2 separate regions of the Homo sapiens genome follow, and region 1 is linked to region 2. Evidence: fine-mapped expression QTL. A gene starts in region 2. The other region holds a variant in brackets. All regions are shown on one strand. Distances are from middle to middle.

Region 1 (16,226 bases), 25 kb before region 2:
GTAGTGGCAGATGCCTGTAATCCCAGCTACTCAGGAGGCTGAGAAAGGAGAATCGCTTGAATCCGGGAGGCAGAGGTTGCAGTGAGCTGAGATCACACCATTGCACTCCAGCCTGGGCAACAAGAGAGAGACTCCGTCTCAAAACAAAAAAAAAAAAAAGTGCTTCCATAAGAGCTTGCTGGGACTGGCCTGGGCTCAGAAAGCATGTGGCCTTGTGCTGCCCAGGCCCTGGCTCTATGACAGCAGTGAAGACAGGATGTCCCTAAGGCACTTTCGGGCTTCATTCTCCTTAATCCCTGACAAGCTTTGAGCCCCAGGACAAGTTTGGACATGACAGGTAGTTTGCAGTGCGGGGTTCTCATGGGAGAATGGTGAGAAATGGTCACCTATGATTTGTCAGCCAAGAAATCATGGTAAACTGTAAGTTAAAAACGGCCCTCAAAATTTAGTGATGCAATTTTAGCCATGCAAAAAATCATGTTTCTCTAGCCTCACTAAAAACACACCAGGCTTTGCTTGCCTGTGATTTCCTCTCTTCTGGCACTCTCAAGTGACAGATGGCACATGAATTACTTTTCAAATGTGTATGCTTGACCACTCACTTATTCTCCCAGGCCCTATGATGTGCAAGACCCTGGCCTGGAGGTTATGGAAATACAGAGGCATTTGGCCCATGAGCCCAGCTTTTCGGAAGCTTGCATCTCCACAGACATGGATAATCTCACATCAGCCACAGGAAAATGGCTGTCCCTAAACCATTTCTGCCTGCTAGCCCCCAAAGCTCATTCCTCCTAAATGATAACTAGCTGTGTCATGGACAGTGACTGAGCTCTGAATCTGACAGTGTGGGCAAGCAGCCTGGCTCCATTTGTTGGCTCTTCTGAAAGCTGCCTGTTAGCCAAACTAGTTACTAATCTACCTATGGGAGCAACAGGAAACCAACTCTGAGACAGGAGATTTGCCAAGATCAACCTCTAACCAAGAAGCCCACACCAAATCAACAGGTCCCACAAACCACATGCAACCTACACTGTTATTTTAATGTTGATGTACAGGTCATAAAATTATAGTCTCCACACAGAATTACAGTCTGCACTGGGAAGGACTCTGGCGCTCCCCCGTCCTACAATCCCACCCCTAAAGAGAGACCCTCTGCAGTTAGGCAGTGAGAAATAGTAGGAACTCTTGCAGGGCAAGGAAACCAGGACGGCCATCTGTAGATGCCTCTTATTGCCCAAGCATCACATCAATTCTTCCCTACATCGAGCTCAGCTCTTTCCTCCTCTGGCCTTTGCTCTTTTTTTTTTTTTTTTTTTTTTTTTTTGAGACGGAGTTTTGCTCTTGTCACCAAGGCTGGATGGAGTGCAATGGCATAATCTTGGTTCACTTAACTTCTGCCTCCCCGGTTCAAGCAATTCTCCTGCCTCAGCCTCTGGAGTAGCTGGGATTACAGGCACCCACCACCATGCCTGGCTAATTTTAGTATTTTTAGTAGAGATGGGGTTTCAACATGTTGGCCAGGCTGGTCTCAAACTCCCAGCCTCAGGTGATCCACCAGCCTCAGCCTCCCAAAGTGCTGGAATTACAGGCATGAGCCATTAGGCCTGGCTGCCCTTGGCTCTTACCCAGCAGCCAGCATGGAGCTTGCACAGACTGGACAGCAATAAACGCTGGTACTGACTCTTGATGGAACGCTTGGACCAGGCTAGGCATCTGGGGAGGCCCTTTGGTTAGAGGTGACACAGCCCCTGCCCTCAACGATGTCACAGTCAAGCCGAAGTAGTAAGACCAGAGTAAAGTAACTGAAATTAAATCCACAGTAAAAACAGTCAATCAATGCTGAAGACACACAGGATGCTCCAAAGGTACACTTAGGGCTCAGCCACCCTGTTCTTAAAGCTGCTGTTCTGAGCAGCAAGAGACAAGGAGAGGAATGAACAGGAGATACAACCTTCTGACTGCTCACAGACTAGCAGAGGAGGGCGACCCCGGAACGCCAAAGATAGGGCATGCCAAGGCGCTTCAGAGGAACCTGCCCCTTCTACCTGGGCCTCCAAATCACGAACATTTTAACAAGCAGATTCTGTGGACTACTTGGAGGCAGGCGTCTCTCTGGCCCTAGTCCTTAGTCTTCAATAGCAGCTACCCTAAGTTTCTTTTTTTAATGTCTCAAATAATTTTAATTGATGGGTAAGCCTTCCTAGAAAGTGGAATATTAACACTATTAAGTAAAGAAATGCATCTTTGCACATCTGCTGCAGCCTCCCTCTGCCACTCCTACCCATTCAGCACGGAATGCAGGGTAGCTGCTGTTCTCGCTGAGGATGATGGGGCTTTTCAGAGGTAATGTTTGCTCAGCTCTCAGCTGCAGGGGGTGGTAGGAGGGACAGCCGGTGCTGGGGAAGAGCTCTCTGCTATTCCAGATACAAAACTGAACAAGAAGCCACCTCAGATTTTTGGAAAAGAAGTTGCTTTTGAACACAAAATTTAAGCTGATGGCTGGGCGCAGTGGCTCACACCTGTAATCCCAACACTTTGGGAGGCCAAGATGGGAGGATCACTAGAGTCAGGACTTCAAGACCAGCCTGGGCAACAGGGTGAGACCTCATCTTTTAAAAAAAATACAAAAATTAGAACATAAAAATTAGCAGGACATGGTGGCACACACCTGTAGTCACAGCTACTTGGGAGGCTGAAGTGGGAGGATCACTTGAGCCTAGGAAGTCAAGGCTGCAGTGAGCTGTGATCACACCACTGCACTCCAGCCTGGGTGACAGAGCAAGACCATCTCAAAACAAATAATAATTATTAATTAAAAAGAAAAAAGCTGAGCGTGGTGGCATACGTCTGTAGTCCTAGCTACCTGAAAGACTGGGGGGAGAGAATCACTTGAACCCAGGAGCTCAAAGCTGCAGTGGGCTATGACTGCCCGCTGCACTCCAGCCTAAGTGACTAAGCAAGGCCCTCTTTTTTTTTTTTTTTTTTTTGACCTGGAGTCTCACTATACAGCCCAGGCTGGAGTACAGTGGTGTGATCTCGGCTCACTGCAACCTCCACCTCCCGGGCTCAAGCGATTCTCCTGCCTCAGCCTCCCGAGTATCTGGGATTACAGGTGTGCACCACCACACCTGGCTAATTTTTGTATTTTTATAGAGATGGGGTTTCACCATGTTGGCCAGGCTGGTCTCAAACTCCTGACCTCAAGTGATCTACCCACCTCGGCCTCCCAAAGTGCTGGGATTACAGGTGTAAGCCACTGCACCTGGGCAAGGCCCTGTTCTCTTTAAATCTAAAAAAAGAAAGAAAATAAATTTAAAGGAAAGTTCTAGTTAAAAAATAAATCGAGGCCAGGTGCAATGACTCACGCCTGTAATCACACCACTTTGGGAGGCTAAGGCAGGTGGATCACCTGAGGTCAGATGTTCAAGACCACCCTGGCCAACATGGTGAAACCCCGTCTCTACTAAAAATACAAAAATTAGCCGGGCATGGTGGTGCACACCTGTAGTCCCAGCTACTCGGGAGGCTGAGGCAGGAGAATTGCTTGAACCTGGGAGGTAGCAGTTGCAGTAAGCCAAGATCACGCCACTGCACTCCAGCCTGGGTGACAGAGTGAGACTCCGTCTCAAGAAAAAAATAAATAAAATAAATTGAGGGCAGGCACAGTGGCTCACACCTGTAATTCCAACACTTTGGGAGGCCAAAGCAAGAGGATCGCTTGAGGCCAGGAGTTCAAGACCAGCCTGGACAACATAGCGAGACCTGTCTCTAAAAAATATTAAAAATTAGCCTGTAGTTCCAGGCACTCAGGAGGCTGAGGTGGGAGGATCACTTGAGCTTGGGAGGTTGAGGCTGCAGTGAGTTGTGATCACACCACTGCACCCAGCCTAGGAAACAGAGTGAGACCCTGTCTGGAAGGAACGAGGGAAATAATTAAATGGTTTAGCATATTTTTAATGTACAGAATCAGGATTCCAGTAAACCATCATGGGTTCTTTAACTCACTAGAATGTACTATAGATGGACACATAGAATTTAAAAGGTGGGATTAGCCCAGGCAACCATTCTTCATTCAACATGTATTTGATTGAGTATGCCTGTTCATCACCACTAAATGATCTTGTCACCTTTGAACCTCAGAGACCAAAGGACCAATTCAGTCCCCAGAAGGAAACCAGGCTAAGTGCTATTTCTCTTCCATGAGTGGAGTCCCAGCACCAAAGTGAGGTGTGGAGTCTATCCCAGCCTAAGTCTCTCCTGAAGAAACTGAGGCTGTGAGGGTCGAAGGGACCTGCCAGAGTCCACAGTACGGAGCCAGGAGGAGGGAACACAGGGCTCTGAGTCACCATGCAGCGCTGTGCAAAGACATCCATATGGAATATATGCCACCTCAGATAACTATACAGAACTTTCTAAACTCACTCTGGAAGATGCCTAGATCCTTACAAATTCTTACAAAGTTAACGTCTTAAGCTTAAAACAACTCTTAAAGTTGGAAACCTAAAATGTACTTCTGAGTTAAAAAACTAAAACTAAATCTGGCCTACTAGGGCTTACCTAGTGAGAATGCCCTCCTCACACAAAGCCAAGGCTCAGGCTCTGGGCAAGGCTGGCCCTCAGATGCCAACTGCGGGTCTTGAGTTTTGTTAAATCTGAAGCTCAACATTATCAGCTCACTTGGGTGAACAGGATCTGGAGTAACTGGATCTGCTCAACAAATTCTCAGAAACTAACTTATAAGTCAGGGCACCTGTTTATTAATTTACAAGGAGAAATGAATCCACTAAAAGAACCAGCAAAAGCAGACTCATGAAACAGTGGCCTCTACTTGGGGACCAAAGTAAATAGTATGGCTATACCTTCTAGCTGCATTCTCCATGCAAAACATTGAGCTCAGTATTACTCTGGAGAAAGTGCTAAAAAGTCTATGAAGGAAGAAAGAGAAGAACACTTAGTCACACTGAGCAGTACCCAGCATGTCTCTGCTACAGGGTTCAGGCATTTTCATTTGCGCAAATTATTTAACCCTTATGAATAAACTACAAGGTGGGTTTTATCTAATAAAACAAAACCGCCTCTGAACAAAGATGTTTAAAGTATTATAAAAAGGCCTAGGTATCCTTAAGGCCAACATTCAGTACATCTCATGAGTATTCACTATGCGCCAGACACTGGGGCTGTAGAAGCCACCGTCCCTGCCCCCAGGGAACCCCCAGTCTAAAGAGGGAGACAGACAAACCGCAACTGCACAGCCACATGAGGGCCCAGCAGGAATGAGGGAAAATGACTGGAAGAGGCACCAAACTCAGTGCCTGGGTCTGAGAAGACAGTGGAACCTGGAGCGATGATTCTGTCCAGCTGGACAGTGATAGGCTATAGTCCCAGAGAGACACCTGCCATCCTCATAAATCACACTGCCTAAGGTGCACATCCGAGGCACTACGACAAATCCCCTCCTACAAGCTCCATGACAAAGAACTCCTCTGTGGACACCCACATTGCACCCCTGCCTATGTGAATTTCCACAAACTTCCAGCACTCCCTGCAGTGTCAGTTGACAGATTAGCTTTTTTTTTTTTTAAGTGCTTTGGTGCCTACCAATGGAAAAAGGACCTTTCCTCGGTGCTGGAGAGGTCTAAATGATAAGTATGACACAGCCGGTGTGCACCCGCATCTCAGGACACGGCTAATTTCTTTCTTTTCTTTTTTTTTGAGCCGGAGTTTCACTCTGTCACCCAGGCTGGAGTGCAGTGGCGCAATCTCGGCTGACTGCAACCTCCACCTCCCGGGTTCAAGTGATTCTCCTGCCTCAGCCTCCCAAATAGCTGGGATTACAGGTGCGTGCCGCCACACCCGGCAATTTTTTTGTATTTTTAGTATAGACGGGGTTTCACCATGTTAGTCAGAATGGTCTTGATCTCCTGACCTCCTGATCCACCCACCTCCACCTCCCAAAGTGCTAGGATTACAGGCATAAGCCACTGTACCCGGCTGACAGAGCGAATTTCAAGGGGAACCAGAGCTCTGCCCACTACCGCCTGTTTGCTTCAGTGAGAAAGGCATAGGCACCTTAGTGCCCACAGGAGGCCACACTGGCGGTGGCCAGGATCCATGCTGGTGGAGTCTCAAGCAGAACCCCACTAGTGTTGCAGGCTTCGTGGATGAAATTCCAGCTTTGGGTGCTCTCTTGCTTGGCCATCTCCCTACATCATTTTTCAACCAGGCTCTTGGGTCCCGACCACAAATCCATAGGAAAATTACTTCTCCGTGGAAGATGTAAAACCTGTGGCTTCTTCTTCCTTGAGTCAAGATGGATGAATCCAACAACCTATACTCCCCACCTGGGTGGAACGGCACTTCTCCATACACGCCCCTTGCCACAGGGTCTCAGACCAGGAAGCCAGCAAATGAACCCTCCACCCACCCCATCCTCCCAAAGCAGGGGTCATGGAGACTGGGCTACCCTAGCTCACAATGGGCAAGCCCTGGGAAGCAGCCATGAAAGCCACCCACAAGGGACTCACACCATCATCATTCTAAATGGCGCTTTCCACACTGGACTTGCACCTACCTCATTCTCCATGGAATACCCTGTGTGAAATTCTGTTTGAGGAATTTCTTTGGAGAGATTCTGGTTCCTCCTCTGCCGACAGCTACTATGCATTCTCTACTCACTTCTGAATTTGTTGAAAAATATGGC[C/G]AGATGTTAGCCCTCCCTCTGAAAAAAACATGACTGAACAGGAAGACCAGAAACCACAGCTTCCTTCTGCAAAGCCACTGAAGCTGTTTACAATTTTTTAAAAGTTTAAAAAGCAGGCAGCACCCAGAAACTGTTGGCAAAATCCAAACAGTCTGCATGCACAAAAAGACACAAAGTAAACCAGCTCATTTTCCCTACTTCCCACAGCACGCGAACCCCACAAGCAGCCTCCCTGCATTTCCAGCAGAAATTCTGCAGTCAACAGAAGGACATTAATTTCAAAGTCCACCATTCTGCACATTCAAATGCCAAAGCTAAACAAGCAGACAGAAAGCACTGTGAGGGGCTACCATTTCCTGGAGACAACAGGCCGTGCTGTTGGTGAAGACCCATGGTACCTGCCTCATACGAAGGGTGGAAACACGCGACAAGGCTGTTCCAGTTACCCCATTTGCAGTGCTTGCTCAAAGGCAGCAAGATCTTTACAGAGATAACTCCATTCCCAGGTGGGGCTTGGGCAGGGCACACCGGGCTCTACGGGTCCTCAGCCTACAAGTGCCTCTACCTGCCTCCAGGACTCATGAGTTTGAGTCAGCAGCACTTTGAAATTAAACAGCGTGCCTCTGGCCAAGCTCACTTCTTCAAGGCAAATTTCCTAATCTAGAAAAGCAGAAGTTGGATCTGTTGCTGGTGAAGGCTCTTAGAACTCTGATAATTCCAGAATGGCTTGCAAATAGGGAGGGCTACTTAATTAAATATTCTGGTTGGCTGGGTGCGGTGGCTCATGTCTGTAATCCCAGCACTTTAGAAGGCTGAGGCAGGTGGATCACCTGAGGTAAGAAGTTCGACACCAGCCTGGCCAACACGGTGAAACCCCGTCTCTACTGAAAGTAGAAAAATTAGCCGGGCGTGGTGATGGGCACCTGTTATCCCAGCTACTTGGGAGGCTGAGGCAGGAGAATCGCTTGAACCTGGGAGGCAGAGGTTCCAGTAAGAAAAGATAGCACCATTGCACTCCAGCCTGGGTAACAGAGTGAGACTCCATCTCAAAAAAAAAAAAAAAAAAAAAAATCTGGTTAGAGTGACTATATTCACAGATCAATAAATAAACATAACAATTACAATATAATTTTTTAAATATTAGGTTGAACCAAATCAAAGTGCTGATTTTCAACAGTGTTTTGGCTATAAAAATGGTACTTTCATACAATTCTATTTCATTAACCTGTAACAAATAAAGTTTAATATTTCCTGATTCCAAAAAGACTGATTGCTTCAGAATAAAATTTAGTGCTTCAATTATTATTCCATATACCACAGATGTAGAAACTGTCATAAAGTTGGAAAAGCAGCATCAGAACTAGATTTGAGTCAATATCCGGTATTAACTGGACTGTCACTTTCTGTCTTTAAAAACCAGAGTAGAGTCACAATTTCAGATTGCTCCTTCCTAAAAGTTGCCTATACAGGGCAGAACCAGCTGACCCTGACCTTCAGGTAGGCTCAAAGGGAAAAAGGCAAACCAGGAGGGAGATACAGAAAGAGGTGCCACTCAGCTGAGCAGCCTCACCTCTATTTTGGCTACTGCAGGGAGGGGAAGGATTCCAGGGAAATAGACATGACTAAAAAGAAAACCCACATGCTCTGAACACTAGTCAACCCCAACCTTCCCTCACAAACACAGTGATCCCCACGGTCAGCATGAGAGAGAAAAGCCAAAGAACAAATGGGAAGAGACAGGCACAGGAACCTACATTCTAGCTAGTATACTTAGAGACACTTGAGAAGAACTGCATCCATAAAATAAGACTAGATAGCTATGAAAAAGAGAAAACGGCCGGGTGCAGTGGCTCCCGCCTGTAATCCCAGCGTTTTGGAAGGCTGAGGTGGGCAGATCACCTGAGGTTAGAAGTTTGAGACCAGACTGACCAATATGGAGAAACCCCGTCTCTACCAAAAACACAAAATTAGCTGGGCGTGATGGCGCATGCCTGTTAATCCCAGCTATTCGGGAGGCTGAAGCACGAGAATCACTTGAACCCAGGAGGCGGAGGTTGCGGTGAGGTGAGATCACGCCATTGCACTCCAGCCTGGGCAACAAGAGTGAAACTCCATCTCAAAAAAAAAAAAAAAAGAAAAAGAGAGAACAGAGAACAAGAAATATATCTTAGAAATTACAAATATGACTGCCAAAATAAAAAATTCGTAGAATAATAACAAGGACATAGCGGAGAGCCCAAAGAATGATGTGAAGGAGAACTGCGGGGTTGGCCAATGCCTGCCTGCTGCTGATGGCCACAGCTGCAAATGTTTTACAGATGAACATTTGCCACCAATTCGATAAAGGGAATCACCAACTTTGAACCCTGATTAAGCAAAATGTTAGCCCCCAAAAAGAATTCCATTCTCAGTAGTAGAACCATATTACAAAAAATTGTACTCAATTATTATACCTTGAATTTCATCAATAAAAAAATTTACGAAAATTTGCTTTCTCTCTTATATAAGTACCTACTTAATGGCCTCAATTTTGCCCCCTGGCCCACACAGCCTGAAATATTTACTGTCTGGTCCTTTACATGAAGTTTGCCAACCCTGTCTTAGAACATAAAGTGAAAAGGTAAAAAGTTTAACATGAGAAAAATTAAAGGCCACAGAAGCTGGGTCCATCGAGTCTAACAGTTTCCTAAGAGGAGAATAAGAGCAGGCAGAATCAAAGAGGGACACAAATATCAGAAGACAACAACGATGAACTCAATTTTATGGACAGAAAAAGCACAGTAACAAGTAGGCTGAATGTAAGAGACAAACCCTCAACATTTAGACTCATCTTCACAAAACTGCAGAATTTCAAGAGAATCTTAGGTTTCCAATAAGAAAATGCAAAAAAAAGTACCTGTAAAAGCAGTAAGACTCAGATCAGCATCAGATGTATCCTGATAAATGGGAATATGGTAATCCCTTTAAAATTCTGTGTGGAAATTAATTTAAATCTGGAAGTTAATTTAAAACCAAACTGTCAATCAAGGTGCAAAATAGTTATTTTCACACCTGCAGTGCCTTGGGATCTTTACACTCTAAAAACCCCCTTTTGAAAAACATACTAGAGGATCTACTCCCAGCAAAACGAGGATCATCCAAGAGAGAAAAAGATGTGGACTCCAAGAAACAGTGGAACCAACCCAGGAAGCAGAGAAAAGAAATCCCAGGGTGACAATGACAGTGTTCAGCAAGCAAACAAAGGAAAATCTGTAAGATTCCATTATGTAAACTAAGAGCCTAGAAGTTCTTGACGATAAAAACATGTTTCTTGGGCCTTGACTAAGGGCTGGCCTGGACATGCAGAGATGAAACTCCACAATGCCTACAGGTAATCATTTAATGTTTGACTGACTGCTGAATGGTGATGCCAGAAGTTATTATCAGCTGAAGAGTCTTTCCTGAACATTATAATCAGCTGAAGAGACTTTGCTGAACTGGCTACTCAGTAGAAATCCAAAAAGTCCACACTTTAGGTGTAAGGAAAACACCCAGAACTAAATTCAAAACTGATACAGAGGCCGGGTGCGGTGGCTCATGCCTGTAATCCCAGCACTTTGGGAGGCCAAGGCAGGAGGATCACCTGATGTCGGGAATTCGAGACCAGCCTGACCAGCATGGAGAAACCCCCAACTCTACTAAAAATACAAAATTAGCAGGGCGTGGTGGCACATGTCTGTAACCCCAGCTACTACGGAGACTGAGGCAGGAGGATCACTTGAACCTGGGAGGCAGAGGTTGCAGTGAGCCAAGATTGTGCCATTGCACTCCAGCCTGGGCAACAAGAGCAAAACTCTGTCTCATAAAAAAAAAAAAAAAAAAAAAAAAAAAAAAAAAAAAAACTGATACAGAGCTATCAAAATAATGACTAAACAAAGATGCACACGACAAAAAAAAAAAAAAAAAGATTTCCCAGTAATCTCACTGCCTACCATAATAAAACTGAATCTCATTCACAATAACAAGGCATTCTCTAGAAAAAGGCTGAGTAAACTCTACCACACAGGCAAGCCACCTGTTTTTGTAAATAAAGTGGGGTTTTCTTGTGTTTTGTTGTTGTTTTTGTTAGTTTTGTTTTTTGAGACGGAGTCTCACTCTGTCATCCAGGCTGGAGTCCAGTGGCACGATCTCAGCTCACTGCAACCTCCACCTCCCAAGTTCAAGCGATTCTCCCGCCTCAGGCTTCCAAGTAACTGGGATTACAGACGCGCAACACCACACCCGGCTAATTTTTGTATTTTTAGTAGAGATGGGGCTTCGCCATGTTGGCCAGGCTGGTCTCGAACTCCTGACCTCAGGTGATCCACCCTCCTCAGCCTCCCAAAGTGCTGGGATTACAGGTGTGAGCCACTGCACCCAGCCGTAAATAAAGTTTTATTAGAACATTTAAAAAAAGAAGTCTGGGCCGGGCATGGTTCTCTCACTTATAAGTGGGAGCTAAACTATGGCTACACAAAGGCACACAGAGTGATATAATGGACACTGGAGACTTAGAAAGGGAGAAAGTGGGAGGGAGGTGAGAGATGAAAAATTACCTACTGGATACAATGTACGCTTTTTGGGTGATGGGTACACTAAAAGCCCAGACTTGCAGGGTGAGGTGGCTCATGCCTGTAATCCCAGCACTTTGGGAGGCCGAGGCTGGTGGATCACTTGAGCTCAGGAGTTCGAGACCAACCTGGTCAACATGGTGAAACCCCGTCTCTACTAAAAATATAAAAATTAGCCAGGCGTGGTGGTGGGCACCTGTAATCCCAGCTACTCGAGAGGCTGAGGTAGGAGAATCGCTTGAGGTCGGGAGGCAGAGGTTGCAGTGAGCCGAGATCGCACCACTGCACTCCAGCCTGGCCAACAGAATGAGACTCCGTCTCAAAAAATAAAATAAAAGCCAGACTTCATCACTATACAATTCACCCATGTAACCAAAAACCACTTGTACCCCAAAAGCTACTGAAATTTTTTAAAATTTAATGTTTCTTTTGAAAGAAAAAAGAAAAGCAATTCATCAGAAACTCTAAAGAAAAGGCCAGGCACGGTGGCTCATGCCTGTAATCCCAGCACTTTGGGAGGCCGAGGCGGGCGGATGACGAGGTCAGGAGATGGAGACCATCCTGGCTAACACGGTGAAACCCCGTCTCTACTAAAAATACAAAAAATTAGCCGGGCACGGTGGTGGGCGCCTGTAGTCCCAGCTACTCGGGAGGCTGAGACAGGAGAATGGCGTGAACCCGGGAGGCGGAGTTTGCAGTGAACCGAGATCGCACCACTGCACTCCACTCTAGCCTGGGCAACAGAGCAAGACTCCATCTCAAAAAAAAAAAAAAAAAAAAAAAAAAAAAGCTGGTCCAAAAAAAAATAATGATCCCCACATGAAACATACTAAAATGTGGCCTAATTCTGAACGCCAACCACAGCACAGATTAATAATCTCCATTTGTTCTCATTGCTTCACATTCACCTTCCAAAGTACAGATTTTGTGGCAAAAAGCTACATCCCCTCACTTACTGTAACCACACTACTTGACATACAATTCAGACTACAATAAAGTCCTAGGTGTGCTCCACTGCTATTGGACTGTCATTGCTTCTAGGTGTTTTCCATGCAGATAGCTAAGAAATACGTGACAGCTCTAATTCAAAATGAATCTAGCAAAATTTTTCCTTAAGTTCTTTAACTTTATACTTGTATCCTTTAAATTCTTACATGAAAAAAAGGTTGCTACCTACATGGTTGATTTCACATGCCACTAATGAATCATAACCCACAGTGTGCAAAACTGTGAGAAGACAGCTTCAACAGCTGTCACAGCCACGCAAGGCAACAGCAGGAACAATGACTCCACCTTCCTTCCCTCTCTCATCCCTTCCCCTCTCCTCCCCTCCTCCTCCTCCCTGTCTCATCTTCCCCTGCCCCATTCTCCTCCTCAGCTCCTCCTCCTACTCCCCTGCCTCATCTCACTCACTCTGCAAACTGCACTTCCAAAGGCATACCCAGGGGACAGGGAGATGGTGCTTGATGCATAGTTTTATTTATTTATTATTTATTTTATTTTATTTTTTTTTTTTGAGAAAGAGCCTCGCTCTGTCGCCCAGATTGGAGTGCAGTGGCGCGATCTCAGCTCACTGCAACTCTACCTTCCGGGTTCAAGCAATTCTCCCTGTCTCAGCCTCCCGAGTAGCTGGGATTACAGGCATGTGTCACCATGCCTGGCTAATTTTTGTATTTTTAGTAGAGTCGGGGGTTTTACCATGTTGGCCAGGCTGGTCTTGAACTCCTGACCTCAGGTGATCCGCCCGCCTCGGCCTCCCAAAGTGCTGAGATTACAGGCGTGAGCCACCGTGCCAGCCTATTTATTATTTTTTTTATTTTTTAGAGACAGGGTCTTGCTCTATTACCCAGGCTGCAGTGCAGTGGCACAATCATGGCTCACTGCATTCTCTAACTCCTAGGCTCAAGCCATCCTCCCACCTCAGCCTCATGAGTAGGCTGGGACTACAGGCATGTCGCCACACCTGGCTTTGGTGCAACAGCTTTAAATCCACCTGACCTCTGCCCTTCTGACACAGCACTCGATATTCTCGACCTCATGAGCACTAAGACCACCCTCAGACAGTGAGGGAGATTCAGGCAGGCAGTGACAGCTCCCCAGAAAGCTCTTTACACAGTGGGCACTAAGCAAGTGTTTGAAATAAATACCAAGGTAATAAGACTGTATTATTACTGCTAACACAGAAAAGCATACACAAACAGGAAAGCAACGTGAAAGACTAATAACAGTTGTTTCTAGTGGGTGTGATTTTTTTCATATAATATATTTTGCTACTTTCTTCTGAGATACAAATGTATTTTTTAGTAAGAAAACTTAACAAGTTCATTTTGGAAAATACTCAAAATTTTTAGCAAATACCACTTTCACCTAATAAAAACTGTTCTCTTGAGAGGTGGGTAAAGAAAAAAAGAATAAACCTTGGTTCTACCATACAAAACAATTTGTTAACATCTACTAAAATTACAAATGCACTTATGTTTCCCAGCAAGTGCATTTTCGGGAATTAATCCTACAGATGCATTACATACATGACAGGTTAGAAAATTAATTGCTTCATTATTTTTTAAGCAAAATGACAACCTAAAAGTCCATAGGAGGGCTGCTGTTTAAATACAGTAGCCCACAGATAAAAATGCCATTCCACCCTAAAGAAGAATAAAGAAACTATATATCTATAATGAAAGAGCTCCAAAACACACTGTCAAGAAAAAATAAACCCAAAGAAGTTCTTATTCCCTTAAGAGAGAAGTAGACTGTATCAAAATAACTTTCTCACAGACCGAGATTATGAACTCTAGATAAAATGTGAAAAACAATCTTCTAAAGACACTGGAGACAAACAAGAAATAAAAAAGAAGCTTGGAATTTATATGACCCTTGAAAGAAGGGAACATCACTGGGCAAGATCCACTTTTATATTGCTTTACTCCTGAGAGTATGCCCCAGTCTCAGAGGAGTGGAGCAGAGAAAAAAAAGCTGCAATTTTATTGGCCTGACAGGTTAAAGGAGGATTTGAGACTGCTAAAGAAGCTGGAAATTGAGAGGGAAATATAGGAAAGGAGGAACCCACTAAAAAAGGAACCCAAAGTCTGAGTATAAGGTCCCCTCAAATCTTTGGCTGAACCCTGAACTGCGTAAGCGGAGGTGAGACTCCCACAAGCCCAGAAAGGACACGATAGCTTGAAGGTTGAAGGAGCAAGCTGATGGCTGGGTGCGGGAGCTCATGCCTATAATCCCAGCACTTTGGGCGGCCAAGGCAGGAAGATCACTTGAGTTCAGGAGTTTGAAACCAGCCTGGGCAACATAGTGAGACCCCATTTCTACAAAAATAAAAATTAGCCAGATAGTGCATGCCTGTAGTCCTACCTACTTGGGAGGCTAAGGTAGGAGAATTGCTTGAGCCCAGAAGTTTAAGGTCACAGTAAACTATGATCACACCATTGCACTCTAACCTGGGTAACAGAGCAAGATCCGTCTCAAAAAAAAAGCTGAGATTTTAGCTCTCCCTAGCTGCAGGGTAGATAAGAGTTTGGAGTCCAAGTCCTGCCAAGTTAAAGGGGCTTAATCAGTACCTTAAACACTTGAGACTATCCATTTGAAACCCCACAAAGGCCACATCTTAGGAGTAAAACATACATTCCAGGACTAAGAAATTTACCCTAAGAGTAAGGACAAAGATCAAAACTGATCTACCAAACCAAAGTATAAAACCCAGCCAGGTGCGGTGGCTCATTCCTGTAATCCCAGGAGGCGGAAGCAGGAGGATGGCTTGAGGCCAGGAGTTCAAGACCAGCCTGAGCAACATACTGAGATTCCATCTATATTTAAAAAACTTTTTTCATTAGCCGGGCACAGTGGTGCATGCCTGTAGTCCCGGCTACTCAGGAGGCTGAGGCAGGAGAATCACTTGAACCCGGGAGGCGGAGGTTGCAAGGTTGCAGTGAGCCGAGATCACGCCACAGCACTCCAGCCTGGCCAACAGAGTGAGACCCTGTCTCAAAAAAAAAAAAAAAAAAAAAAGGCCAGGCGCAGTGGCTCACGCCTATAATCCCAACACTTTGGGAGGCCGAGGCAGGCAGATCATCTGAGGTCAGGAGTTCGAGACCAGCCTGGTCAACATGGCAAAACCACATTTCTATTAAAAATACAAAAATTAGCCTGGCATGGTGGTGCATGCCTGTAATCCCAGCTACTTGGGAGGCTGATGCAGGAGAATCACTTGAATCTGGGAGGCAGAGGTTGCAGTAAGCTGAGATTGCGCTACTGCACTCCAGCCTGGCGACAGAGTAAGACTCCATCTCAAAAAAAAAAAAAAGAAATTCTTAAAACTGTCAAATAAAAGACATTCAGTACAACAAAAATGACAGGTAACTTCTCAAGAGAAAAAATGGATGCCAGAAGATAATGAGTCTTCATCTTTAAAATGCCAAAAGAAGCTGGGCATGGTGGCTCACGCCTTGGGAGGCTCAGGCAGGCAGATCACTGGAGGTCAGGAGTTGAAGACCAGCCCCATCAACATGGTGAAACCCCATCTCTGCTAAAAATACAAAAAAAAATTAGCTGGGCGTGGTGGTATGTGCCTATAATCACAGCTACCCAGGAGGCTAAGGCAAAAGAATCACTTGAACCCAGGAGGTGGAGGTTGCAGTGAGCAAGATCACGCCACTGCACTCCAGCCTGGGTGACAAAGCGAGACTCTATCTCAAAATAAATAAATAAATAAATAATAAAAAATGCTGAAAGAAAACAGTCAACCTAGAATTCTATATCCTGTAAAACAGAGGTCCCCAGCCCCCAGGCCACAGACTGGTCTGGGTCCGTGGCCTGTTAGGAGCCAGGCCGCACACAGCAGGAGGTGAGTGGAGGGCCAGCAAGCATTACCACCTGAGCCCCGCCTCCTGTGAGATCAGTGGCTGCATTAGATTCTCATAAGAGTA
Region 2 (16,226 bases):
ACAATACTAAGTGAGAGGGGGAGCCTTAGAAAGGAACTTGAACTCAGCCTGATATTAGAAGTGCACAGGCAGGTGGGCTATGGTTATTGTCTATACCCAGTAGCATGAAAAGTAAAAGCTATGTAAAGGTGATGTATCTAATGGCAGTAATAAATTAGCTAGACATAATCATATCTAGGGCATTTTCAGACATCTGACAGAAAATCAACATGCACCATAACTGACACTTAGACCTGACCAAGGCATCTCATTAAGAACATGTACCCTTGGCCGGGTGCGGTGGCTCACGCCTGTAATCCCAGTACTTTGGGAGGCCGAGGTAGGTGGATCACCTGAGGTTGGGAGTTTGAGACCAGTCTGACCCACATGGAGAAACCCCGTCTCTACTAAAAATACAAAATTAGCCGGACTTGGTGGCGCATGCCTGTAATCCCAGCTACTTGGGAAGGCTGAGGCAGGAGAATCGCTTGAACCTGGGAGGTAGAGGTTGTGGTGAGCCGAGATCGCGCCACTGCACTCCAGCCTGGGCAAGAGCAAAACTGTCTCAAAAAAAAAAAAAAAAAAAAAAAAAAAGAACATGTACCCTTGGCCAGGCACGGTGGCACACAGAGGCACACATTGGTCAGGACTTCGGGAGGACGAGGCGGGTGGATCATGAGGTCAAGAGATCAAGACCATTCTTGCCAACATGGGGAAACCCCATCTCTACCAAAAATAAAAAAATTAGCCGGGCATGGGAACACGCACCTATAGTCCCAGCTACTTGGGAGGCTGAGGCAGAATTGCTTGAACCCAGGAGGCGGAGCCTGCAGTGAGCTGAGGTCATGCAACTGCACTCCAGCCTGGGCAGCAGAGCAAGACTCCACCTCAAAAAAAAAAAAAAAAAAAAATGTACCCCACCACATAAACCAACAAGGGAAACATTTCAGTTTCCACACCTGACCAGAGAGCTCATGGTGACAACACACAGGAAGCAAATTTGATTTTTTGAAAAAAACCTGTATGGAATTTTAAACTATAGAATAGACATAAAGATTTAAATAAAGGCTTCTCTCTTTTTTTTCTCCAAGGTACAAAAACAACATGTGAAATGGTTATCTCCCACTCCTCAACTAGGTTTCCCTTAAGAACAGTGACACCACGGGTTTAGGCTGACCAGTCTTCTCACTTTCAGAAAAGTGAAAAACCTCCTTGGGTTACAAGACACACCATCATCCTAAGCTGCAAACAAAAGCCCAAATTCCATGTTCCTATTATGCTTATTAAAGGGGATCACTTTCATTGCACATACATCTAATGCCTATGGTCAAATGCCCTAATTCTTAACATAATCCAAGCAAAAAATTGTTACTGTTTGGGCACACTTGGGAGAAAAAAAAAGGTCACATTTTTGGCACAGACACAAGGCTAAGGAAAAAAGTTCTTATTTTTACAAAACAAACAAACAAAAAATCCTAATGGTTCCATTGACAAATCCAAATGTAAACTCCCTCATACCTGTAGAATCATTTGAAGAGCAGTTGCTGTTCTTGATTGAAAGATAAAAAAGCCAAGGAGTGCGAAGCGCGCTAACAAAGATCCACTGTTCACAAGGACACAGCGATGCATGCAGAGGACATGGCTGGGCTCACTGCTCCCGCCACAGATCCCAGAGCACAAAGCCTGTCCCAGATGAAATGAATGACATCCCTGACTGTGCCAGCTCCCAAAACACCATACATGTTCTCCCAACCACAAAGAGTGTGCTGTGATTTATGGTTTACATACAGCACAGTGAGGGTTGTCCTGTCACTCTGAGCAGCTCGTCCGTGGCCATGTTGACAGTGTAGACTTGGTCCTCAGAACTCACCCCAGAGACCCTAAGGCAGCCAGCAGATGAGGCCAGAATGACCAGCAACATAAGGCTTGTTACTCTTCTGTCTTGATGAGTTACTACTGCACTTCTATCTACAAACTGAACTCTAGGGTTTGCTTCAAAATCACCTGGTGCATTAGCCTTCTTGGGCTGCCAGGACTAAGTATTATAGACTTGAGTGGCTTCAATAATAGAAACTTATTCTCTTAGAGTCTAGATGCTGAAAGTCCAAGATCAAGGTAAATTTAGCAGGGTGGTTTCTCCTGAGGTCTCTCCTTGGCTTGCAGATGGCTGCCTTCTCCATGAGTCCTCCAATGATCATTCCTCTCTGTGTCCTAATAACTTCCTATAAGGACATCCATCAGATTGGATTAGGGCCCACACAATTACCTCATTTTACCTCAATCACCTCCTTAAAGACTCCATCTTCAGGCCAGGCATGGTGGCTCAAGCCTATAATCCCAGCACTTTGGGAGGCCGAGGTGGGTGGATCACGGAGTCAGGAGATTGAGACCATCCTGGCTAATACGGTGAAACCCCATCTCTACCAAAAATACAAAAAAATTAGCCAGGTGTGGTGGCGGGCACCTGTAGTCCTAGCTACTCAGGAGGCCGAGGCAGGAGAATGGCGGGAACCTGGGAGGCGGAGCTTGCAGCGAGCCAAGATTGCACCACTGCACTCCAGCCTGGGTGACAGAGCAACAAGACTCCGTCTAAAATAAAAACAAATAAAAAAAAAAAGACTCCATCTTCAAATACAGTCACATCCTGAGGTCCTGGAAGTAGGGGCTTCAGCACATGACTCTGAGGGGACACTATTCGGCCCACACAGGCAGGAAGCAGGAATGAGGAGAAGGTGCACATGAAACTGACTGCCCACACATGGGCACAGGGGACTTCGTTACATGATTTTTTTTCTTTACATTTGCTTTTGAAGTTTTCATAAAGGTGTTCCTGATCACTCTTACCAAAGCCTGCTCCCACCATCCATCCCCGGGCTCCACTTCCTGCTCTGCAGCCACAGGCTCACCGTACACATTTCAGTCTCCAGCATCTGTGTCTGACACCATTGGTGCTAATAAACAATAGTTTAATGGACAAGTGAATGCATGATGTGGAACACCTCCAGTGGCTTCAAGTGCATACAGAACCAACACCCAACTTCCCAGCCCAAGGACTTCCCAGGACTGGGGGGTCCTCTCCACCTCATCTCTGCTTCTGAACTGCAGGACACAGTCCCGGTCTCAACCTGGCTGGAAGTGGCTGCTGCCTGCCCCATGTCTCTTCTGACATCCTAGGTCTGCCTTTAGTCTCTAATTTTAGGTGTAAGTGACCTACTTTCCAAAGTGCAATGTCCCTAACCCTCTTCTCAGTGGGCTAAGCACATAATAGGCAAGGCATGACCAAGTTATCTCACTAAAAACTTGTATCGCCACCACGTAAACCAACAATAGAGGGTGATTTAAATGCTCAATAGTTAGGTTTATAGGACTTAATCATGACCATTTACTTACACTGCAAAGTGACAACAAGGAGGGGGCACTGCTGACGGAAATGAAAAAACTGGAAGATCAAGAGTAAGCGCCCCAGTGGGGCAGACTGCAGACGCCCTTCTCGTCTGCAGGGAAGCCCTTCACTGCAATAATATTGCTAAGAGAAACGTTTTGCTTTACACTATCTTCCTCTGAAAGGATGCTCAGAGCAGCCCTGGAAGGTTCTGATGTGCTTTCTGAATCTAAATTATGACAGAATCTGACAATATGTTGAAAATTAACAAATACATACTATGTAAATGGTAACTCTTCAAGACAGAAAAGTAACCAGCCTTATGTTGCCGATCATTCTGGCCTCACCTACTGGCTGCCTTAGGTTCTCTGCTGAGCACCTCCTGCCTGGTTCTCCAGCCTCCTGACCCTGAGTTACCAAGTTGCCATCCAAGAATCACTGCAATAGCTACCCAAGAGGAAAAATAAAACAAAATATAGCAGCCCCAATTCACCTTCTGAACCCAAGTATGGCTTGTGACAGTTATAGAATCGGTTTAGTGGGTCATGACCATGAGCCTTTTTTTTTTTTTTGAGACGGAGTCTTACTCTTGTCGCCCAGGCTGGAGCGCAATGGCACATTCTCAGCTCACTGCAACCTCCATCTCCCGAGTTCAAGCAATTCTCCTGCCTCAGCCTCACAAGTAGCTAGGATTACAGGCCCCACCACCACGCTCAGCTAATTTTTGTATTTTTAGTAGAGATGGGGTTTCACCATGGCTGGTCTCAGACTCCTGACAGGTGATCCACCCACCTCAGCCTCCCAAAGTGCTGGGATTACCAGTGTGAGCCACCGCACCTGGCCAACCACCAGTTGTAATAGAAAGAAAAAAAAATAGAATTAAAAAATCAGAGCGTTTAAGTGTGGTTCCTTTAAACTTTCACTTCGGTTATACAGACACACACATTTATGTCTGCATCAGGTCAGCATGGAGAAGGTATGGCTTCCTGGTGCCTGCAGTGACCAAATTTTAAAAGGTACTGGTCCAATCCAAGCTTTCAGTTCCTCACAGACACTGGTCCAGCAGTGACTACAGCAGCTGATAGTTCAGGGCCTGTAACCTAGAGGATCTTTTCCCCTCCACTTTTTATTATGGAAATTCTCAAAAATACATAAAAGTAGACAGAACAATATATAACCATTACCAAAGCATTCAGCTATCCCCTTTGTTTCTTCTATTTTGAGTAAAGCAAATCCCAGAAATCATATTATTTCACCTACAAATATCTCAGAATACATGCCTATCAGATCAGAACTTAATTATCATACCCAACAAAATTAATAATTCCTTATTTATTATTTAATATCTAGTCCTACATTTCTAGGGAACTTTATAACCTTTTTTTTCTCTTTTTCTTCTTGAGACAGGGTCTTGCTGTCACTCAGGTGGTGGCACAATCACACTCACTGCAGCCTCGACCTCCAGGGCTCAAGCGATCTTCCCTTCTCAGCATCCCAAGTAGCTGGAACTACAGGCATGCACCACCATGCTCAGCTAATTTTCTTATTTTTTGTAGAGATAGGGTCTCACTACATTGTCCAGGCTGATCTCAAACTCCTAGGCTCAAGTGATCCTCCCACCTCAGTCTCCCAAAGTGCTGGGATTACAGGCGTAGCCACTACACTCAACCTATAACCTTTTTCTACCTTAAACAATGCAAATAAACTAGATGAATGTAAAAATATTTAACTTTGATCAGTGTGAAATCATAGCCACCTGGTGGGGCAACCGAAGACCAGAGGCAGCAGAGAAGCTGAGACCCACAAGGTTAAGGCCACAAGATGGTTTTTTTTTTTTTTTGGAGATGGAGTCTTGCCCTGTTGCCCAGGCTGGAGTACAGTGGCATGATCTCAGCTCACTGCAACCTCCACCTCCCGGGTTCAAGAGATTCTCCTGCCTCAGCCTCCTAACTGGGATTATAGGCACATGCCACCACGCCCAGCTAATTTTGTATTTTTAGTAGAGACGGGGTTTCACCATGCTGGCCAGGCTGGTCTCAAACTCCTGGTGTCAAGTGATCCGCCTGCTTCGGCCTCCCAAAGTGTTAGGATTACCTACACCCAACCCTGACAAGACAGCTTTTTTGGGCTGTGATCTGAGTATAAAAATCCACACAACCCAACTTAAGTGCATCCAAGTTTCTAATAAAAAGGAATTACTGTCAGGTGCGGTGGCTCAGCCACCCAGCACCTTGGGAGGCCAAGGTGGGTGGATCACCTGAGATCCGGAGTTTGAGACTAGCCTGACCAACATGGAGAAACCCCGTCTCTACTAAAAATACAAAAATTAGCTGGGCATGATGGCACACGCCTGTAATCCCAGCTACTCGGGAGGCTGAGGCAAGAGAATCACCTGAACCCGGGAGGCGGAGGTTGCAGTGAGCTGAGATCGTGCCATTGCACTCCAGCCTGGGCAACAAGAGCGAAACTCTATCTCAAAAAAAAAGGAATTACATAGTGCCACAATGCACAGAACATGAGTCCATACCGTAGGTAGGAGCCTTATTCTCCAAACCCCAAAACAGAACTTGTAGGCTAAAAAGTAGACACTCTGTAGACATCAGGACAGAAGAGCAGCCCCAAGTGGTCACTTCTACTCCCCAGGCCCCACACCTTTAGTGGCCAGAGGACTTTTCTGTCAATGCACTCATTCCTTCAGATGGACCCATGAGTGATCCATCTCCCCATCAGCTCCTGGGGGCCACAAGCTCTTCCTGTATCCCCATCACCCAGTGAGTTTCATGGGACACAAGAGGGGCTCAACAGACATTTGTTAAACGAACCATGGCCCACTTGAGGAAACCCAGGTGTACAGTCATCATCACCACATGTGCTGAGGTGACTTGAGAAAGGGCAGTGATACACTGGGGCCAAGTTTCCGTGAGACTCACTTTGGTCCATAGGTTCTCTGCCAACTCACTGATTCCTGTGTCCTGAGGAAAATGGGCCGAGGTAAAAAAAAGCCTGAATCACTGCTTGGCAGACACCAAGACAAGTGTCTGAGATTAAAAAGAAAAAAAAAAAAAAGGCCCACCTGAGCTCAGGTGATCCTCCTGCCTCAGCCTCCCAAGTAGCTGAGACTATAGGCGAGCGCTGCCGCGCCTGGCTAATTTCTGTATTTTTTGTATAGATGGGGTTTTGCCATGTTGCCCAGGCTGGTCTCGAACTCCTGAGCTAAAGTGATCGAGCCTTGGCCTCCCAAAGTGCTGGATTACAGGCGTAGCTACCATACCCAGCCTAATTCTGCATTTTTTGAAGAAGCTAACTTAGAAGAATTTAAGCGTCCAAACTGTACCTTCATAAAACTATTGTCAGCACTTCTGCTACTTATGTCTGAATTTGTGTATAAGTTTAGAGCAATGCAATTTACCTTAATGAGAATGATTTAACCACCGAAGTTATTAAACTGGAGGTGATCTCACATTGAATGTGGTAGCTGAGCAGGAAGGTTCTGCCAGCTTGCAACTGGCAGAGTACACGAGGTAGTGTTAAGTCATGACCTGGAGAAGAATCCATGCCCCAAAGCTCCTTGTCTGGCTTGTCTACAGGAAACAAGCTAAGACAAGTGGCAGAATACAGAAAAAACACAAAACCCCTGGCTTAAGCAACTACATAACAACTGATTATCTCCTCTAGTGAGAAAATGAAATTAATAATTAACCTGTTTATGCCTAAATTTTTTCATTACCCAACTGGAAAATTCTTGATAATTTTACTGTTTTTTCACTTGTACCCCAAAAACAGTCTTACTGCTTCTCTCTCTCTCTCCCTATTTGCTGGGTGTTTCATGTTTCTACCAAAGCTGATAGACAGCTCTAGAAAAAAAAATCACTCAATTCCATCCTTGCCTATCACACACAGGTAGATGGGCCAGGTACTCCTGTAAGCGGTGCACAATGAGGTCATCAGTCCTTAGCGCGCTCTTGGATCCCGGCATTCCACAGAGCACATGGCTCACTTTCCGCAAAGCTCAGCATCATCCACACTCGGGCCTGATGGTCCCTACTAAGCAGCCACCGGGTTAGCACCTCTCCTTTCCAGCTAACTCCTTTTACACTGCTTGGCTCCTCCCTCTTCTGTGCGCAGCACGCATCTCTAATCTAACACCTGCAGGCTGAATCACTATCTTGAGCTATTTTCCAGACTTAAAACATCTTTGTAGATAACCGCAAATTATACTGCACCTAAATTAGACATGCATGGTGCTAACATGAAACAATGAGTTGAGAAAGTAGAGAACCAGCACCACAGGACTCCCTGAAGGCCACCTGGCTACATTCTATTTCAAACAGGACTTTTAAATGGGGCACTCTGTCAAACAAGGTGGTGAGTAGCTGTCAATTAAAGGACACTTCCCTGCAGAGTTCAGGGTAGTAAAATCATAGTTAGGAATTATCGAGGTCTGCTTTAAACTTGTGGATAAAAGTGCGCACACACACATCAAAAAGAAAATGATAGCCAAGACGTGAAGATTATAAAGCATTTATTTGAAAAAGATACATTTTATTAAAATCCATTTTCCACTTTAATGGTAGTTCAATCCACATCGTTTTTCCAGTCTTAAAATGTTTCTTTATCGACTACTATAACCCTTTACTGTAATTAAAGCCACATTTTGTAAAACTACATAAACTGGGGTTTGACTATGAACTATGTCCTAAATCCCACTGCCAAATGTAGCTAGCGTCACTAAAATCAATCAATGGTTTTAGGTCTGAGTGATAGTGGACGAGTGAGCTGGCCATAAGGTGAAGGCCACCCTTGCTTTTACTGGATATCCAAAAACGAAGTCCAGTGAGCAGCAAACGTCTCCACGTTAACCACACAGCCCACTAGCTCCAGTTCCAGCCCTGGACAGCTTTCTGGCCCCTCGCCGGGCCCACTTCCTCTGCAGCCCCAGGTCCCGACGCGCAGGGAAGGCCGTCTGGGGCCGAGGTCGGGGCGAGCCGCTGCCCGGGCCAGAGGAAAGGCGCGGCGCTTCCTGCCCGCCCGGCCGCGAAAGCCCACCTGACCATTGTCCGGGGTCTCGCCCTGCCCCGCCCCGCCCCGCCAGCTGGCCCACTGCCCCCCCCCCCGGGCCCCAAGGAACACCCGCCCACCCCACCCTGGCCCCTCAACCCAGCCGCCCGCCGACCACAGCAGTAGGACGCCCCCGCGCACGCTCACCTTCTTGCCCTTCTTGCCCTCCTCTTCCATATCGCCGCGTGCGGCTCCCGCGGCCCGCCCGGCCCGCCCCGGGAGCCCCGCCGCCAGCAGCCGCTACATGCTCGACCCGGGCCCGCCGCCCCCGCGCTCCCGGCGCCGCCCGCCAGCCGGGCCCGAAGTCTCCGCCCCGGCCGCGCCCCACACCCGCACTTCCGGGCCCGAGCCCCCTCCGCCCCGCCCAGGCCCCACCTTCCCCAGCGCAGGCCCCGCCCACGGTTGTCGCTCATCCTCACTTTCAGGCCCAAGGGAATCCGACCCGCAGCGATCAGACCCCGCCCCTTCAGGGAGAACACGGCCCGTTGGCCCCGCTCACGGCGAGAGCACCGCCCACAGGCTGAAGATCCTGCCCCTTCAGGACGGCCGAGAACGCGCCTGCCTTGCACCACCCCCACCCCGCCCCGCGTCCTTCAGGAGAGCCGGAAACGCTCCTACCCCTACTTCGCTTCTGCACGGCCGCGAGAACGCACCTGTCCAGCCCCCTGTTCGCTCCGCCCACTCAGCGCGCGCGGGAGCGCGCGCGGGAGCAGCTCCAACTTTTTCAATTTGCCGCCATCTTTACGGCGGCCGACTTCCCAGCCTGCCTCGCGTCCAGGGAGGCGGAGCTCAGGTCTCTGAAAAGGGGACGGGGGGCGGGGGACGGGGGACGGGGGCCGGCGGGAGGGGACGCGGCCGGCAGATGGCGAAGGAGGGGCGCGAGGAGGCGGCCACTGTTGAGGGGCGGGGCGTCCCGCCGAGAGTCTGGGTGCGGTGCGGTTTTCTTTTTTCTTGTGTCCCACTTTATTCCCTGAGCCACAGGGAATCCGTTTTCTAGTACTTCTCTGTTATAAAGTCTGCCTGCCTTAGACAAACACATTTGGAAAATAGAAGTGCAACCACAAGGATGTGCAGACCCTATCAGAATAAAATCGTAGAACCTTACCAGTCATCCGGTATAATTTCCACATTTTCCAGATGAGGTCCGGGGAATGAGGTGATTCGCCCAAAAGCACACTACAAATTGGAGTCACCAGCAGGTCTGCTATTTTGCCACTAAACCAATCTGCCGGTAAGAACTTTGTAGCACAGCTAGAATGTAAACTGTGTTTTTTTGGTGGTTTTTTTTTTTTTTTGAGACGGAGCCTTGCTCTGTCGCCCAGGCTGGAGTGCCAGTGGCGTGGATCTCGGCTCACTGCAAGCTCTGCCTCGCGGGTTCACGCCGTTCTCCTGCCTCAGCCTCCCGAGTAGCTGGGACTACAGGCGCCAGCCACCACACCTGGCTAATTTTTGTATTTTTAGTAGAGACGGGGTTTCACCATGGTCTGGATCTCCTGACCTGGTGATCCGCCCACCTCGGCCTCCCAAAGTGCTGGGATTACAGGCGTGAGCCACCGCGCCCGGCCTAATAATTCTTTATATTAAACTTTTCTTTACTGTGTTTCTGTCTCCTGACTGGGCCTATGTTATACTGATATTCAAAAGAAATACTTGGTCTCTAGACCTCTCCAAAGGCATAAGTATTCCATTCTCTGCAAGATAAAGCAGAGATAGTGGAAACACCCTTTCAATCTGCCTTCTGCAATAATCCAGCTTGCCACATTTACACACGCAAATGATGTAGCGCATCTGGTTGTCATTATTTTCCCACCATTCACAGAACAAAGGCCTGATATTTAAAGTCTTCCACCGTCTTCCACAAATGCATATTTATCACTCCATAATACAGTAAACAACACTACTAAAACTTCTCTTAGCCTAACTCTGGATGTGCTGACTTCCTCAGGCTGTTCTTATCCATCAGAATACCTTTGCCCTGTCTTTGCATACACAGGTTCATGCTTCAAGCAAAAGTCCACTGGCTAATGATCAGATGGTGATAACTGGGAATAAAGACAATAAAATGAGAAAAGCAAAAAGGCTGTTAGCTTGCTATAACAAGGGAGTCAGCCACCATCATTTGTATTTGGATGAGACTCAATGTCAGGCAGAGGAGTGGGTAAGCTTTATAGTGAAAAAAGGGAAGCCTCCAGGGATGTCCTCATTTGAGGCTGTTGGCCTGGGGAAGCAAGGGGCAGGGCATCCCAAGTGATTGGTTAGGGGCACATATTTGTCTTTCTCTGGTTGCTCCTAAGCTGGAAGCAGGACCGAAAACTAGGAAAGCTGCCAGTTTTTTTTTAATTGACAAATAATTTTTTGTTTCTTTTGTATTTTTAGAGATAAAGTCTCACTCTGTCCTTCAGGTTAGAGTGCAGTGATGCAGTCATGGCTCACTGAAGCTTCAACCTCCTGGGCTCAAGCAATCCTCCCATCTCAGCCTCCCAAGTAGCTGGGACTACAAGGACGCATCACCAAGCCTGGCTAATTTTAGTATATTTTTGTTGAGACAAGGTCACACTATGTTGCCCAGGCTGGTCTCAAACTCCTAGGCTCAAGCAATCCTCCCTCCTCAGCCTCCCAAAGTGCTGGGATTATAGGCATGAGCCATCGCACCCAGCTAACACATAATAATTGTACATATTTATGAGGTACATGTGATTTGTGTGTGTGTGTGAGGCAGAGTCTCACTCTGTCACCCAGGCTGGAGTGCAGTGGCATGATTTCAGCTCACTGCAACCTCTGCCTCCCAGGTTCAAGCAATTCTCCTGCCTCAGCTTCCCAAGTAGCTGGGATTACAGGCATGCACCACCACACCAGGCTAATTTTTTTTTTTTTTTTTTTTTTGAGACAGAGTCTTACTCTGTATTGCCCAGGCTGTAGTGCAGTGGTGCAATCTCAGCTCACTGCAACATCCACCCCCCAGTTTCAAGCGATTCTCCTGCCTCCGGAGTAGCTGGAATTACAGGTGCCCACTACCACGCCCGGCTAATTTCTGTATTTTTAGTAGAGACAGGGTTTCACCATGTTGCCCAGGCTGGTCTCGAACTCCTGGCCTCATGTGATCTGTCCACCTTAGCCTCCCAAAGTGCTGAGATTACAGGCATGAGCCACTGCACCCGGCCAAAATACATGTGATATTTTGATACATGCATATGATGTGTAATAATAAAATCAGGGTATTTAGGATATTCGTCACCTGAACACTTATTTCTTTGTGTTGGAGACATTTCAGATCTCTCCTAGCTATTCTGAAATATACAGTACATTGTTATTAACTATAGTCATCTTACTCTGCTATGGAACATTAGAATTTAGGCTGGGTGTGGTGGCTCAAACCCGTAATCCGAGCACTTGGAGAGGCTAAGCTGGGAAGATCACGTGAACCCAGGAATTGGAGACCAGCCTGGGCAATATAGTGAGATCCTTCTTCTACAAAAAATACAAAAATTAGCTGGGCATAGTGGTGTGCACCTGTGGTCCCAGCTACTCAGGGGCCTGAAGTGGGGTCCTTGAGCCCAGGAGGTCGAGGCTGCAGTGAGCTGTCATTGCACCACTGCACTCCAGCCTGGGCAACAAGCCAGATCTGTCTCACACACACACACACACACACACACACACACACACCCATGAGAAATTATTGCTTCTATTTAGCTGTATGTTTGTACACGCTAACCAACCTCTCTTCAGCCCCCTACTTTCCCCCAACACACACCCTTCCCAGCCTCTGGTGGCTATCATCCCAGTCTCTATCTCAATGAGATGAATATTTGTTTAGCTCCCACATATGAGTGAGTAAATGCAATACTTGTCTTTGTTTTTTTGTTTAAAAAAAAATTTACAGGGATGAGGTCACTATGTTGCCCAGGCTGGTCTCCAACTCCTAGGTTCAAGCCATCCTCCCACTTCAGCCTCCCAAGTATTGGGATTACAGGCTTACATAGTGACCTCTAGCTCTATTTATGTTGCTGCAAATGACATTTTCATTTTTTTTTCCTATGGCCAAATAGTATTCTATTGTGTATATATACTAATTTTTTTTGACATGAGGTCTCACTCTGTCACCCAGGCTGGAGTGCAGTGGTATGATCACTGCTCACTACAGCCTTGATCTCATAGACTCAAGAGATCCTCCCACCTCAGCCTCCCCAGTAGCTGGAACCACAGGTGTCTGCTATCACACCTGGCTAATTTTTTTACTTTTTGTAGAGATGAGGTCTCTATGTTGCCCAGGCTGCTCTCAAATTCCTGGGCTCAAGCAATCCTCGCGCCTCAGCCTCCCAAAGTGCTGGGATTATAGGCTTGAGTCACCACGCTCAACCTTATTTTTTGTCTTTTTTTTTTTTTTAGAGACAGGGCTTCCCTCTGTTACCCAGGCTGGAGTGCAGTGGCATGATCTTAGCTCACCGCAGCTTGAGCTAAGGAGCTGGGCTCCTGGGCTCAATGGATCCTCCCACCTCAGCCTCCTAAGTAGCTGGGACTGCAGGTGCGCCAACACCCTTATTTTTTGCCTTTTTGATAATAACCATTCTAAATGGGGTGAAATGGTATCTCATTGTGGTTTTGATTTGCATTTCCCTGATGACTCATGATATTGAGTATTTTTTTATATGTACCTATTTGTTTTTTGTACATCTTCTTTTGAGAAATGTCTACTCAGATTCTTCGCCCACTTTTTAATGGATTATTTGTGGTTTTTTGCTGTCAAGTTGTTTGAGTTCCTTGTATATTCTGGATATTAGTCCCTTGCCGCATGAATAGTTTGCAAATATTTTCTCCCATTCTAAAGGTTGTCTTTTCACTCAGTTGATTGTTTCCATTGCTGTGCAGAAGCTTTTTAGTTTCGCTTAATATAGTCCCATTTGTCTATTTTTGGTTTTGTTGCCTATGCTTTTGAAATTTTAGCCATAAAATCTTTGCCTCGTTCAATGTCTTGAAGCATTTCCCCTATGTTTTCTTCTAGTAGTTTTGTAGTTTCAGGTCTTATGTTTAAGTCTTTAATCCATTTTGAGTTGATTTTTGTATCTGGTGAGAGATAGGGTGCCAGTTATTAATTAAGTCCTAGGCTTTGGGGGCTGTTAGAAAAGTTACTCCTGGATTGTCACTAGAGATAACACCTGGCTTCCTGCAAGTATGACTTACAGCAGGCTTGTTTCCTGGGCTGGTTGCTGTAGATAACGAATTGGTTTCCTGAGGAGGTTTCTGCAGGTTGTCAGTCAGAGTTCTAGTTGTACAAATGGTCCAGCCATTGTCTATTTGTATATTCAGTCTCTCGTAACAGACACCAATGAGACAATTATAACATAAAACAATCTTTTCTTTCTCTCCAGGTCACACCTTGGCTGTAAAGTGTCCTAACAGCCACCTACTTATGATTACTGCTTTCTTACCAATAACCTCCCCAGCCTGTTGTGTGGCTCCTACATCTTGAACAAAAGCGACCAAGGTACCCAATTACTAAACTGCCCACACTTCATGAAAGCAACTTTATAGCCATGATACTCACTTCCCCTTGTCCCCTCTTCAGAATTACTCAGGGCCAGCCCAAACCTTACAAAGTCCCCTTCCTATTCCCTCGTAATGAGAAGCAGCCCTTCTTCCTCTGGGGTGCTCTCCCTGGTCATGGTAGGTTAATAAACCCAAATCTTTTTGCCCAACTGATTTTTGTATTTTAGTAGAGACGGGGTTTCACCATGTTGGCCAGGATGGTTTTGATCTCTTGACCTCGTGATCTGCCTGCTTCGGCCTCCCAGAGTGCTGGGGTTACAGGTGTGAGCCACCGCGCCTGGCTTAAACCCAAGTCTTTTAGACTGCTGGTGAATTTGGCTGTTGAGCTTTGTGACCCAGCTCAATAATCACATCTTCCACTAAATTTCTGGATGCAATTTTTCCCTCCTCCAGTTTCCAGATAACTGTATCTGTATGTCTGTGATGCTAGAGTTAACCAGGTTTAGGACATTTCCTCTACTAGAATAAGCTCCTTTGAAGGTACGGACTATGTGGGATTCCTCCTTGTATCTGAAATAAACTCTAATAAGGGAAATTATGTACACTGAGCCAGACTGAGGTGGAGGGGCACTGGCAACATTACCTGAACATAGTTTCTCATAGATGCTTCCCAGCTAGGCCCTGTTCAGGTAATGTTTCCCTGGTTTTAAGAAAACCCCTAAACACTGAAAATTTACACTTAATTGGCCTATTCAAAGACAGTGTTCCCAGATTTGCATTTTTGCTAGATTTCAGCCAATTTTTTTTTTTTTTTTGAGACAGGGTCTCACTCTGTCACCCAGGCTAGAATGCAGTGGAACCATCTCAACTCACTGCACCCTCAACCTCCCAGGCTCCAGCTATCCTCCCACCTCAGTCTCCCAAGTAGCTGGGACTACAGATGCACACCACCACACTGGCTAATTTTTGTATTTTTTGTAGAGACAGGGTTTCACCATGTTGCCCAGGCTGGTCTTGAACGCATGGACTCATGCAATCCATCTGTCTTGGCCTCCCAAAGTGCTGGGATTACAGGCATGAGCCACTGTGCCCAGCCTTCCAGCCAATTTTTTTTCTTTTTTGAGACAGAGTCTTGCTCTATTGCCCAGGCTGGAGTGCAGTGGCATGATCTTGGCTCACCGCAACCTCCACCTCCTGGGTTCAAGTGACTCCTGCCTCAGCCTCCCGAGTAGCTAGGATTACAGGCATGCACCACCACACCCAGCCAATTTTTGTATTTTTAGTAGAGACAGGGTTTCACCATCACCATGTTGGCCAGGTTGGTCTCAAACTCCTGACCTCAGGTGATCCAGCAGCCTCGGCCTCCCAGAGTGTCGGGATCACAGGTGTGAGCCACTGCAGCCAGCCAACCAGCCAATTTTTTTAAGTGAATCTTTTCACTGGTCTCGAAACTGACTGCAGTTGTTTTCTTATTGTGCCTCTCAGCCATCTGTCCTTGAGTCTATCAGTTGTCTCCCTCATATGAGAACTGGCTTGCAAATAACTAACTAGATGTCTCTGATTTCTGTTTGTTTGTTTTGAGACAGAGTCTCGCTCTGTGGCCCAGGCTGGAGTGCAGTAGCACAATCTTGGCTCACTGCAACCTCTGCCTCCTGGGTTCAAGCGATTCTTCTGCCTCAGCCTCCCGAGTAGCTGGGACTACAGGCGTGTGCCACCACGCCCTGCTAATTTTTGTATTTTTAGTAGAGACAGGGTTTCATCATATTGGCCTGGCTGGTCTCGAACTCCTGACCTCATTCATGATCCACCCGCCTTGGCATCCCAAAGTGTTGGGATTACAGGCATGAACCACCGCGCCTGGCCTTCTCTGAGTTATTCTTTGACGTATGACATGCAACACTTTGACTGTTGTGCACATGATAAAACCATATAGACTTCATTAGTGAAGGAAAGACACTTCAGAGTTGATTAGAGTGAACTATCAGTGAATTTTAATATCCAGTTTCCAGGCCTATAAATCATGAAGGACCAAATCAACTCTGGATCAGAATGACCCCTCAGAAATACAGCCACACTGTGTGGCCCCCAACGGAAGCAACCTTGCAAGTTCCATTTTGACATCTCATTAGCTAACACTGTTTATTCTTCTAGAGCCAAATTGCTAATTTTCTTTTCAGGCATACATCTGTAGGAGACCAGAATATGCCACCCCAAAATATGCCTCCTTGGCCTAAGGATTATTCTGAGCTAGTAATTTTGAGAAACAGAAGCTATGAAAACAGCATAAGCTACCCCTTTGAAAGAGAAATTCACCCCGGCCACC

Alleles and levels. Positions count from the first base shown, and alleles are read on the strand shown. Sizes are in standard deviations (SD) of each study's normalised expression.
With allele G in place of C in region 1, the expression in whole blood of the gene that starts at base 8,729 in region 2 is higher (moderate effect, 0.42 SD a copy in Lepik 2017).

Evidence for each region.
Region 1: its variant is fine-mapped to the expression of CCM2 in whole blood (TOPMed, PIP above 0.99).

What each region holds. Positions count from the first base shown.
Region 1 is chr7:45,018,143-45,034,368 of GRCh38, reverse strand. All of the region lies in intron 1 of CCM2 (CCM2 scaffold protein), which reads right to left. Among named protein-coding and RNA genes, the nearest start is that of CCM2, 26 kb to the right of the region's middle. RefSeq lists enhancers at 6,091-6,160, 6,763-6,812 and a silencer at 7,203-7,272. The variant C/G (reference allele first, on the strand shown) is at 6,701.
Region 2 is chr7:44,992,704-45,008,929 of GRCh38, reverse strand. CCM2 (CCM2 scaffold protein) reads right to left here and starts at 8,729. Exons shown (of 10, transcript NM_031443.4): 1 at 8,567-8,729. The coding sequence starts at 8,596. It overlaps LOC102723334 (a long non-coding RNA gene), which reads left to right and starts at 8,922. Exons shown (of 4, transcript XR_428139.4): 1 at 8,922-9,212; 2 at 9,557-9,650; 3 at 13,786-13,901; 4 at 16,081-16,226. RefSeq lists silencers at 8,253-8,782, 9,413-9,462 and enhancers at 13,651-13,700, 13,721-13,780, 13,821-13,870, 13,951-14,000.